Linked DNA regions of Homo sapiens. The protein of the gene in region 1 purifies or fractionates together with the protein of each later gene. This does not show direct contact. Each region holds a gene or a part of one and is shown on either strand. Other genes may lie near its edges. The genes, in order: CDKL3, ESD and DSC3.

Region 1 (3,408 bases):
AGGCATGAGCCACTGTGCCCAACCATGAATAGTTTGTGTGTGTGTGTGTGTGTGTGTGTGTGTGTGTGTGTGTGTGTGTGTGTGTGTGTGTTTTGAGACAGAGCCTCACTCTTATCTCCCAGGCTGGAGTGCAATGGCATGATCTTGGCTCTCTGCAACCTTGGCCTCCCGGATTCAAGCGATTCTCCTGTCTCAGCCTCCTGAGTAGCTGGGATTACAGCTGTGCACCACCACACCCAGCTAATTTTTGCATTTTTAGTAGAGATGGTGTTTCACCGTGTTGGTCAGGCTGGTTTCGAACTCCTGACCTCAAGTGATCCGCCTGCCTCAGCCTCCCAAAGTGTTGGGATTACAGGCATGAGCCATTGCACCCAGCCATGAATAGCTTTTAAAACAACGGCTCAAATATTTTATTAAGAACTCATTTAAAGAGGCCTGTGTGTTATAGGAGATAACTGACTCGAAGTTATGTGGCTACAAGAAGGCAGAGATCATTAAGTATAAGTACAGTTTGTATCATGTCACGGCTTGTGTTATCCACTCAGTAATCATGGCAAAAAAAAGAAGTAGGCAGAGAAGAGATGACTTTATAATTCCAAATCAAATTATCACATCAACAGAGTCTTAAAAGGGAAAAGAAAACAGTAAATGTTTTGCTAACAAAAAAAGCTGGATGATGCTCATGCACATGGATGGCTGTCTTAACAACAACTCACATCACACTTCTATTGTAGATAAATAAAACGGGAAGAGTTGTCATCTTGTATTTTTTGGACTATGTAAAAGAAAAGACACTACCAGAAAAAAAACCTGTTTCTCTTCAAATTCTTCCCCTCGCAATGGCCATCTCCACCCTAAAATTAGAAACCAAGCTAGTAAGAATCAGGGACTGGAATGTAAATATATGCTACCAAAACTCTGACTTTATTAATGCTAAATTACATGTAAATTACTAAATTATAAACATGCTAGTCAAGCCAAAAGATTTGCTTCAATGCCTTGCTCAACTTCCATCTTTTTTTTTGCGGGGGGCAGCGGGATGGAGTCTCGCTCTGTGCTCAGGCTGGAGTGCAGTGGCGTGATCTCGGCTCACTACAACCTCCGCCTCCCGGGTTCAAGCAATTCTCCTGCCTCCACCTCTGAGTAGCTGGGATTACAGGTGCACGCCACAATGTCCGGCTAATTTTTTGCATTTTTAGTAGAGATGGGGTTTCACCATGCTGGCCAGACTGGTCTCGAACTCCTGGCCTCATGATCCACCTGCCTCGGCCACCCAAAGTGCTGGGATTACAGGCGTGAGCCACCATGCCCGACCAATTTCCATCCTTTTAAACAATCTTCATGATATGTTTAAATGCTGCTCCAGAAAGTTCAGTGTAAAGCCAAACCCATGTTACATGGTTATCAAGTATATTTGTTTGCTCAGAAATGTTTGGTGTTCCCAGACATCAGGATCTTACTTTATCACATATTTAGAAACTTTTCCTTCTGTAATTATAAAGCCCTAAACCAATGCTAAGAATGACCACTCATCAAGTATGATTGAAATAATAGGTGATCAAATAAAATTATATGACTAAATGTAAGCTGCAATTTTATTAGGATGTACCAGTCAGGTAGTTTTTATAAATTCATGTTCAAATTAAGAAAACATGAATAATTTAAAGATTAATAAATTTAAAAACAAATTTAGGTGAATGTACATATAACTAACAGGATTTACGATATACCTGTAAAATTATCTAGTTAGCATTTTTGTGTATGTAACATTAATAAAAAGGATTTTTAAAAAACCATACAGTGATTCTGGGATTCCCTGAATTTTCAGCTGCTGCATTTTCTACTCTACATCTGGCAAGTTCTTCTTCCTTTCAGTTTGTGCATTTCCTGTATTCTAAAAAGTAAATAGAAACAGGTCTTTAATTGAGGACATGGTGAGTCTTTGGCTAAGGAAATACAGCCAGAGATAAATACTTGTACTTTGCCCCTATGGGTTGTTTCATAAGGTACAGGGAAACTATTTAGCAATGTATTCCTTATCATTATCATCCAACAAAACAAAAGGTGGCCTTTGTATGGACTCTTTTCTCTCTTGCCTAACTCACTCATTCCCAGTAATTTAGTCTCTCTCTGGTTATAGAACCTATTCAATGCATGCACGCACATTTGAGATAGCTGAAAGAGTTTAAAAAGTAAACCTGGCAGGGCGTGGTGGCTCACACCTGTAATCCCAGCACTTTGGGAGGCCAAGGCAGGCAGATTACCTGAGGTCAGGAGTTCGAGACCAGCCTGGACAACATGGTGAAACCCCGTCTCTACTCAAAATACAAAAATTAGCCAGGCATGGTGGCAGGCACCTGTAATCCCAGCTACTCAGGAGGCTGAGACAGGAAAATTGCTTGAACCCAGGAGGTGGAGGTTGCAGTGAGCTAAGATCACACCACTGTACTCCAGCCTAAGTGGCAGAGTGAGACTCTGTCTCAATAAATAAATAAATAAATAATAAAAAATAAAGTAAACCTGAGAAGTGCTTGGATCTGATTGTATAATTCGAAAACCAAGTCAATACAGAGCCAAGAATAGAAAAAATAACTAGCAATTCCCTATCTTATGTTTTTAAAAATATGTCATATTCTTTCATGCTCTAAAATAAACTACAGGCTCAAAATTTAAGAAATGTTCTTAATTCTGACATTTATTAAAACCAGTTGTACTAGCCTTTTATGCAATTTCAGTCACTTGTCAGAGCTGCATTTGAATAAGCAGTACAAATAAACTATAATCAACACTGATGACTTCATTTTTTCTGGAGTTCTATATCATATGAACAAGAAGATGTTTTCCCTCCTTAATTTATTATTTATCCTAAAAATCACAGAAGGGTCTTTTTTCCTGCAGAGTTCCTTTTTTCCTGGACTAGAAAGTAATTTTAGTTCCTGGGGACTCTCACAGGACAATGGGATAAACACATGAGGCACATTAATAGTCTGCCTACCTCAGGAGCCCTAACTCACCCAATGATTGAAAAAATGTGCAAATGGTATGCTGTGCAACGTGCTGTGACATGAGTATGTCACCCAAATTTAAAAGTTTAAAGCCACCTTATTACTTTTTATAATGAACCGAAAGATGACTATTAATGGATTTTTTTTTTTTTAAACGGAGTTTCACTCTTGTTGTCTAGGCTGGAGTGCAATGGTTTGATCTCAGCTCACTGCGCAACCTCCGCCTCCCAGGTTCAAGCAATTCTCCTGCCTCAGCCTCCCGAGTAGCTGGGATTACAGGCATGAGCCACCACACCCAGCTAATTTTTGTATTTTTAGTAGAGAAGGGGTTTCACCACATTGGCCAGGCTGGTCTTGAACTCCTGACTTCAGGTGATCCACCCTCTTCAGCCTCCCAAAGTGC
Region 2 (3,660 bases), on another chromosome or scaffold:
GAGAAATGACACAATTTATTTAAAGCCATAGTAATTGGAGGCACCAGGGACCCCTGAAAATAAGGATAAAAGTTGAGCTTAGAAAAAAGATTAATTGAAAGTCTGTTTTTAAAAGGAGATAGATCTGAGAGTGTCCCAGCTTTATGGACTGCCTCTTCCTAACTCTGGGAAAGATTGGAGGTAAGTTCTCTAGAGAAAGTAAACTGTTTGTACTGGGGAATACCAGACACAATTAGTGGGATTGTGATACTGCAAATAGATTAAGCAAAAGTTTGCACACTGAGTTTCTTCCACTAGCTTTCAAAATTTGGGGACTTAGTCTTATATCCTTTAGAAGAATTTCTTTGTGGGGAGTTTGAGTAGCCCAAAGGAAGAGATTTCAAGATACTGAGATTTGCCAACAAAGTAACCTAACCAGACCTTACAGTAAAGCAATGATTGACAACTCCACCTGTAGGCACAGTGCTTTCAACTAGATTTTTAGTGTTTCTCTCTTAAATAGGAGTGGACAGCTAAAGATCACTAGACATTTGTATAAAGTCTTTAATTTGATATGAACTTCTCTTCATATCAAAGTATAAAAGATATTGACCTCTTGACTTCATAGGATGCTATTAAAAAATATTCAAGTACATGGCCAGGTGTGGTGACTTACACCTGTAATACTAACACTTTGGGAGGCCAAGGCAGGCAGATCACCTGAGGTCAGGAGTTCGAGACCAACCTGGCCAACATGGTGAAACCCTGTCTCTACTGAAAAAAAAAAAATATATATATATATATATGTACAAAAATTAGCCAGGCATGGTTATGCACACCTGTAGTCCCAGCTACTTAGGAGGCTGAGGCAGGAGAATTGCTTGAACCTGGGAGGCAGAGGTTGCAGTGAGCTAAGATGGCACCACTGCACTCCAGCCTGGGCGACAAGAGCGAAACTCTGTCTCAAAAAACATAAAATAAAAAAATCCTCAACTACAAAAAAGCCTAGACATTTAAATTTTGGTAGTAGAAATGACAAAACTCAATAGAATGGTTAGTTGAACATTCTAGAAAGTAAAATAAGATAAAAGTGATAAATCAGAAAGGACAACAAAATTAGAGGACTAGTCCAAAAATCCAACATTAAAAGTTAGGAATTTTGGAAAATAGAACAGAAATAGAGGTATAGATATAAATAATAAATAATTCAAGAATTCCCAGAACTGAAGTTGCCAGATTTAAAAAGTTGTCTAGTACAATGGATGAAAATAGATCTACACCAACAACATAGTAAAGTTTTAGAGTGTTGGGAACAAAGAAAATTCTCAAACATTGAGAAAAAGAGAAAGTAGATTAAGAATTTTTCAAAGGTTTAGGTCAGCTCAACGGTATTACTAGAACTAAGAAGGCAGAGCAGCAGTGCTTTCAGGATTCTGAAGGATAACTTCTATGTCCAACCATATTGTCAATTAAGTGAGAGTAGAATGAAGATGTTTTCATATATGAAAGGTCTCAAAGTGTATTTCCCATGCACTTTTGGAAGCAACTGAATAATATGCTTCACCAAAATGAGGGACTAAAGCAAGATAGCTGAAGGCATAAGATCCAAGAAAACAGATCAGAGGAGAAAGAGTTTCCAGATGAGTGGAGCTATATTAAGGCAGCAACTAGAAAGCAGCAGGTCAAAAGTTGGAGATGGTAGCCAGTAATTACATGTAGCCATTTACATCAAATTAGCTAATTAATAAAACTTCAGTCCCACTAGCCACATTTCAGGTGCTCAGTAGTCACATGACCAGAAGCTGTTGTACTGGACAATACATAGATAGAACATTTTTATTAATATCACTGTAGAAAGTTCTGTTCGGCAGTACTGGTCTGAAGGGGTTTTTTTAATGTAGATGAAATTGATAGAACTGACTGTATTAGAGAGGAAATTTATGAAACCAATCAGGGTTGGGGGAGTTTGGTATTGAATTAGTGATACATGCAGAGTGACCACACAAATATCTGTGCATGAGATTGTATTCTTTTGGTAATTGAGCAACATCTTAATGACATGATAGGGACAGAGGTTTCAGAAGATTGCTTGATAATCCTGTTGTGTTTTTTTTTTTTTTTTTTGCTTTTACATAAGTGTTAATCATACCACTGTTGAACATACTTTAGACCTGATTTATTCCACAACTGCTTGAGAAAGGTCCTCTTTTAAAAATTTTGTTGTAATAACAAAACAACATGAAATATACCCTCTTAACAAATGTTTAAGTGTGCAAGAAAGGTCTTAAGGCACCAACCATTCTGTAACAAGATTATGTTCTCTTGATTTTACGTATTGATAACAGATATCCCTGCATTGAATATGGATTTGATATAGTATTATAATGAAAGTAAATGTTTCAGCTTCCCTAACAAAAGTTGAAAACCTAAAAACAAATGTCAGAAATTTTTTGTGCCGTCAGTCATCAACAAGAAAAGTTGCTTAGAATAATGTGGAAAAAGAAAATCACCAATATGCAGAGAATGGAAAGGAGCATACAGAAAACTTCCCATGATGGGGCCTTTGTGGGAGTCTATTCCTAACAAGGAAGGATAACCAGTAACAAAAAGGAGAGAATTACCAGCTCAATGAAAACAAAAAAAACTGAAAGAAAAAGGAAAGTAATGCTAATATACTACATGGCTTATCTCTGAATAGCATTTATAACTTCTTAATATTGATTAACCAAAATTATATGTGATACGATAGTGGAAGGAGAAATGTAGGGGCATGCAGAGAGCAAAGACAGGGAGCTGAAAGTTAACTAAAATCCTTCTATAATGGGAAGCCAATAGATAATAACTAAAAACTGAAAAATCTAGAAGCAGTAATAAAGTCATATTATGTAGATAGGGACATAAATACCAGAAAAATCAACTAAAAGAGGTAAATTAATTATCTCTGGAATATGGAAAATGAGAAGGTTGGAGAGTTTTTTATATATTTAGTTTTTATATATATTTAGTTTTTCATAACAGTGTGTGGAAGTATTTACTATTTAGTTACAGTTTACTTTAAACTATGTACTTACATAACTTTGATAAAAAGATAGGTGTTTACTCTGAAGTAGTAAGAGTTTACTTCCATTTATATGATGTTTTAAATAAACCCATGAGAGATCACTGTTGCATGAATTACTGTTTACTGGAAAAACGCCTGTGGTTTTAATCAAAATTGTCTTTTCTAGTTGCATTAATAGTGATTGTGATAAAATATTAGTGATGAAAGAGCGAATTAAGGATGTGTTGCATTTTAGTGCCTATGAACAAATATGTAAGATCTCAAGAATTCATTTTTTTATGAAAGATGATTTGTCATTTCATACATTTCTTTAGAAACAAAAACTATTTTTTAATAAATGCCACAATGAATTACATTTATTTTTTCACTTATTTTGCCCAGAATGACAGTGCCATGCAAAGTATAGGCTCAGGTTGGTTTAGATCAGTATGCTAAATTGACCACATTCTTTCTTTAAGGGACAAGTATATTCGTTAAATGTTAGTGGAACCACTTATTTTGAACATTAAATAACTTATTTTGGACCTTTAGTATATATCTTACTTTTTATATAGTGCATAATTATTTTGTTTCTGTATTGATTAATGAGGGGCATTAATATTTTGTTGTTGTTTTTGTTA
Region 3 (3,660 bases), on another chromosome or scaffold:
CATACATGAACAACTTCAATTTTATTAGCTATTGCCAAGTTGCTCTACAAAGTACTAATATCAATTTCTATTAATGCCCCTAGCATATTAAATCTCTCTATTTCCCATATCCTCCCTTACAAATAATTTTATGACTTTTTCCATGTTGCCAACCTAATGGCTGTTTTAATTTGCATTTTATTTATTTGTTGTGAGATTGACTGTATTTTCTTGTGTTTATTTGCCATTTATCTTCTGTAAATCATCTATTCTTCCTCCTTTAATCACTTATCTATTGTTTGTGCTTGTTAAATTTTTTTCTTGTAGGTTTACTTAGTTTGCTTTTTAACTTTTATTATGAAATCTTCTGATAAACAGAGTGCTTCAATTTTGTTTTTTTCATTTGACACATCTTTATTAAAATTTTCTGTATACCAGATACTCAAAAACCTCAAAGTTCCCCATTGCTCAATCTTTTTTTTTAAAGTAGTATTTTTGCTCTTTTTAGACTTTGACTCTCAAAACAATTTTATGATCAGTTCCCCAAGTTCTGTAAAAATTTATTTTAGGATGTTGATGAAATTCCATTTCCTTTAAATATTAATTTAAAGAGGATTTGACATTTAGGGCTCTTGAGACTTTCCATCCATGAACATGATTCATTCTCACTTACTTATGAATTATATTTCCTTTTTGCTTTCTTTCTTCCTTTTTTTTTTTTGAGATGGAATCTTGCTCTGTGGCCCAGGCTGGAGTGCAGTGGTGCGATCTCAGCTCACTGAAACATCTGCCTCCTAGGTTCAAGCAATTCTCCTGCCTCAGCCTCCTGAGTAGCTGGGATTACAGGCGCCTGCCACCACCCCCAGCTAATTTTTGTATTTTTAGTAGAGATGGGGTTTCACCATGTTGGACAGGCTGGTCTTGAACTCCTGACCTCGTGATCTGTCTGCCTCAGCCTCCCAAAGTGCTGGGATTACAGGCGTGAGCCACCGCACTCGGCCGAATTATGTTTGTTTTTCAATAAAGCTTTGCAATTTTTGCTAAAAAGGTCTTTCACATTTTTTGTTACATTTATCTTAGATACATTGATTTGTTGCTGTAATGAATGGGATTCTTCTTAACATATTTTTGAGTTGTCCCTTGATAATATATAGAAATCATTTAAAAATATTAAGCTTATATCCATGAAACTTGCTTACTTTTATTAGTTCTAGTATCTGTTAATAGATAGTGTTGGATTTTCTATGTAGTTAATCCTGTCGCTGGCAAAATGACAACTAGGTTTCTTTTCTTTTAATCCTACAAGTCTTTCATTATTGCTAATTTTTATCTGATATGCTTGTTAGGACCTCTTCTGGAATGCTGAACAGAAACACCTGTACTGACCATTATGGATTTGTTTCTAACTTAAAGAGAATATTTTTACAGTTTTGCCATTAATTATGAGTCTTTTTCTTTTTTCCTTGTAACATTCATTCATTCATTCATTTTTGTTAGATATGTTTCATTACATTAAGAAAGTTCATTCTTGGCCAGGCGCAGTGGCTCATGCCTGTAATCCCAGCACTCTGGGAGGCCGAGGCAGGCGGATCATGAGGTCAGGAGTTCGAGACATGCCGGACCAACATGGTGAAACCTCGTCTCTACTAAAAATACAAAAATTAGCCGGCTGTGGTGGCACAAGCCTGTAATCCCAGCTACTCAGGAAGCTGAGGCAGGAGAATCACTTGAATCTGGGAGGCGGAGGTTGCAGTGAGCCAACCTCCAGCCTGCACTCCAGCCTGGGGAACAGAGCAAAACTCCATCTCAAAAAAAAAAAAAGTTCATTCTCTACATTCTTAGTGTGCTATGAATTCTATGAATTCTTTTGAAATGAAATGTTTCCACTTTCTTGAAATAATCAGTTTTTCTCTGTTGATACATTTTCTCTGTTGATACTATGTTAAAATACAATAATAGATGTTCTTATGTGAACCCATGTTTCCTTTCCTGATAAGCCTTACAAGAACATAAAATATTTATATCTTACAAATATATTGGTTTGTTTTCAATTTATCTCATTTCACATATTTGTCTGTAAGTGAGATCAGGCTACTATTTTTCAACTTCATACGATCCTCATAAAATGAGTTAAGAAGAGTTCTGTATTTTTTTGTTCTTTGAAACAATTTACATAAAGTACATTGTTCCATATAATTCTGAAAGAAATAACTTATCACAAACCTGGGCCTGGTGGATCTAAAGAAGTGTGTGTGGAGCTCTCTAACTTCTAATTCAATTTATTTAATGGTTACAGGTCTATTTAGATTTTGTATACCTCCTCAAGTCAATGTTGGTTATGTGTATTTTGTAAGAAGTTGTCTGTTTTGTCTGTATTTTCAAGTTAATTGGAATTATCTATTCATGTTATTTTACTTTTTAACATCTGTTCTCTCCAAAACTATACTTCCTTTTCATTCCTAATATTGTTTTATGTATGCCTTTTCTATTTTTGACTTGCTCAGAGTAGGGTTTGTCTATACTCAAGAGGTTTAGTTTAGTTGATACCCTCTATTGCTCATTTCTTTCCTTTTTAAAAAATGTTCTTCATAAAATATATTATAAATACCAAAGATTACATATAGCATGTGTGTGTTTTAATAAATAATAAAATGAACATTAGGGTATTCACGTTCAAGGTTAAGAAATGGAACATTACTAATATTTTCAAAGTTCCTAACTATATAGCAGTAGCTCATTCATTTTCTTTGCTGCATAGGATATTATTAGAAAGAATGTACAGTTAATTCATTAATACAACTTTTGAAAGGGATAATATTCAATAGACTTCAGTTATAGTATGTTTCTTGAAACTATGAAGTCATTTGATATTATGTTTTTGTGAGGTTTGGATGCCTTATTGAAAACAAAATAAAGTAAAAAATGTAAAGACACTAGTATATTAATGATGAACTAATGACCTTTAAAGATATTTTATAATAAAAATAACTTCTGTATACAAGAATGCCCATATTTTAAATTAAAATATAACAAACTTTAAAGATGATAATATAAAGTATTACCTACTGCAGCCTAAGCAAAATAGTTTTGTTGCATTTTATAGTACTAAGCAAATTGTATTAATTGCATGATAGAAACCTTATCAGACGAATCATTAAATCCTGATGGAAAAATTTAATGCCAAAGAGAGAACGAAAATTAAAGGTGTTATCTGCAGTTGTTTCACTTTCATGCTGTTGTTTAATTTTATAGTAAATACACAAAGTAGGCTTTCTAAAATGACACCCTACTTCAGTAGAGAAGAAAAAGAATGGAAATTTATGGAATGTCTTAAATGTGAAGAGGATCTTCTGGATTAAACACAATAATTACAGAATTTTAAACTCTTCATTTCTCCTGTGGCCATAAGTCTTCTGCAGAATGGAAATATTACCTTTCAAATTCTTACCACTTCAAAGGTAAATTGCAAGATTTACTGCTCTACATTCTCAGTACTTAAATGAGTCTAATAAATTTGTTTCCACCCAAACTCATTGTAAGATGGGAATTCCAGCTATCATACTTTCAGCGGAAAGTATGATTAACTACAGGTCACCACAGATACCATATATGGTACAGGACTGCCATGGGAATTACAACAGGATCCAAAAATGTGCATGAGCTTACATTTATTTATTCAGA

The links.
Region 2: the proteins of CDKL3 (region 1) and ESD purify together in Homo sapiens (affinity purification with mass spectrometry; one large-scale study listed by BioGRID and IntAct). This does not show direct contact.
Region 3: the proteins of CDKL3 (region 1) and DSC3 purify together in Homo sapiens (affinity purification with mass spectrometry; one large-scale study listed by BioGRID and IntAct). This does not show direct contact.

The regions. Positions count from the first base shown.
Region 1 is NC_000005.10:134,297,857-134,301,264, forward strand, and holds the end of CDKL3 (cyclin-dependent kinase-like 3), read right to left. Parts: intron 1,895-3,408; coding exon of another isoform or gene 1,841-1,894; exon of another isoform or gene 1,569-1,840; intron 855-1,568; coding exon 795-854; 3' UTR 568-794; downstream 1-567.
Region 2 is NC_000013.11:46,787,117-46,790,776, reverse strand, and holds part of ESD (S-formylglutathione hydrolase), read left to right. Parts: intron 1-3,660.
Region 3 is NC_000018.10:31,036,111-31,039,770, forward strand, and holds part of DSC3 (desmocollin-3 isoform Dsc3a preproprotein), read right to left. Parts: intron 1-3,660. UniProt on the Homo sapiens protein: A component of desmosome cell-cell junctions which are required for positive regulation of cellular adhesion. Required for cell-cell adhesion in the epidermis, as a result required for the maintenance of the dermal cohesion and the dermal barrier function.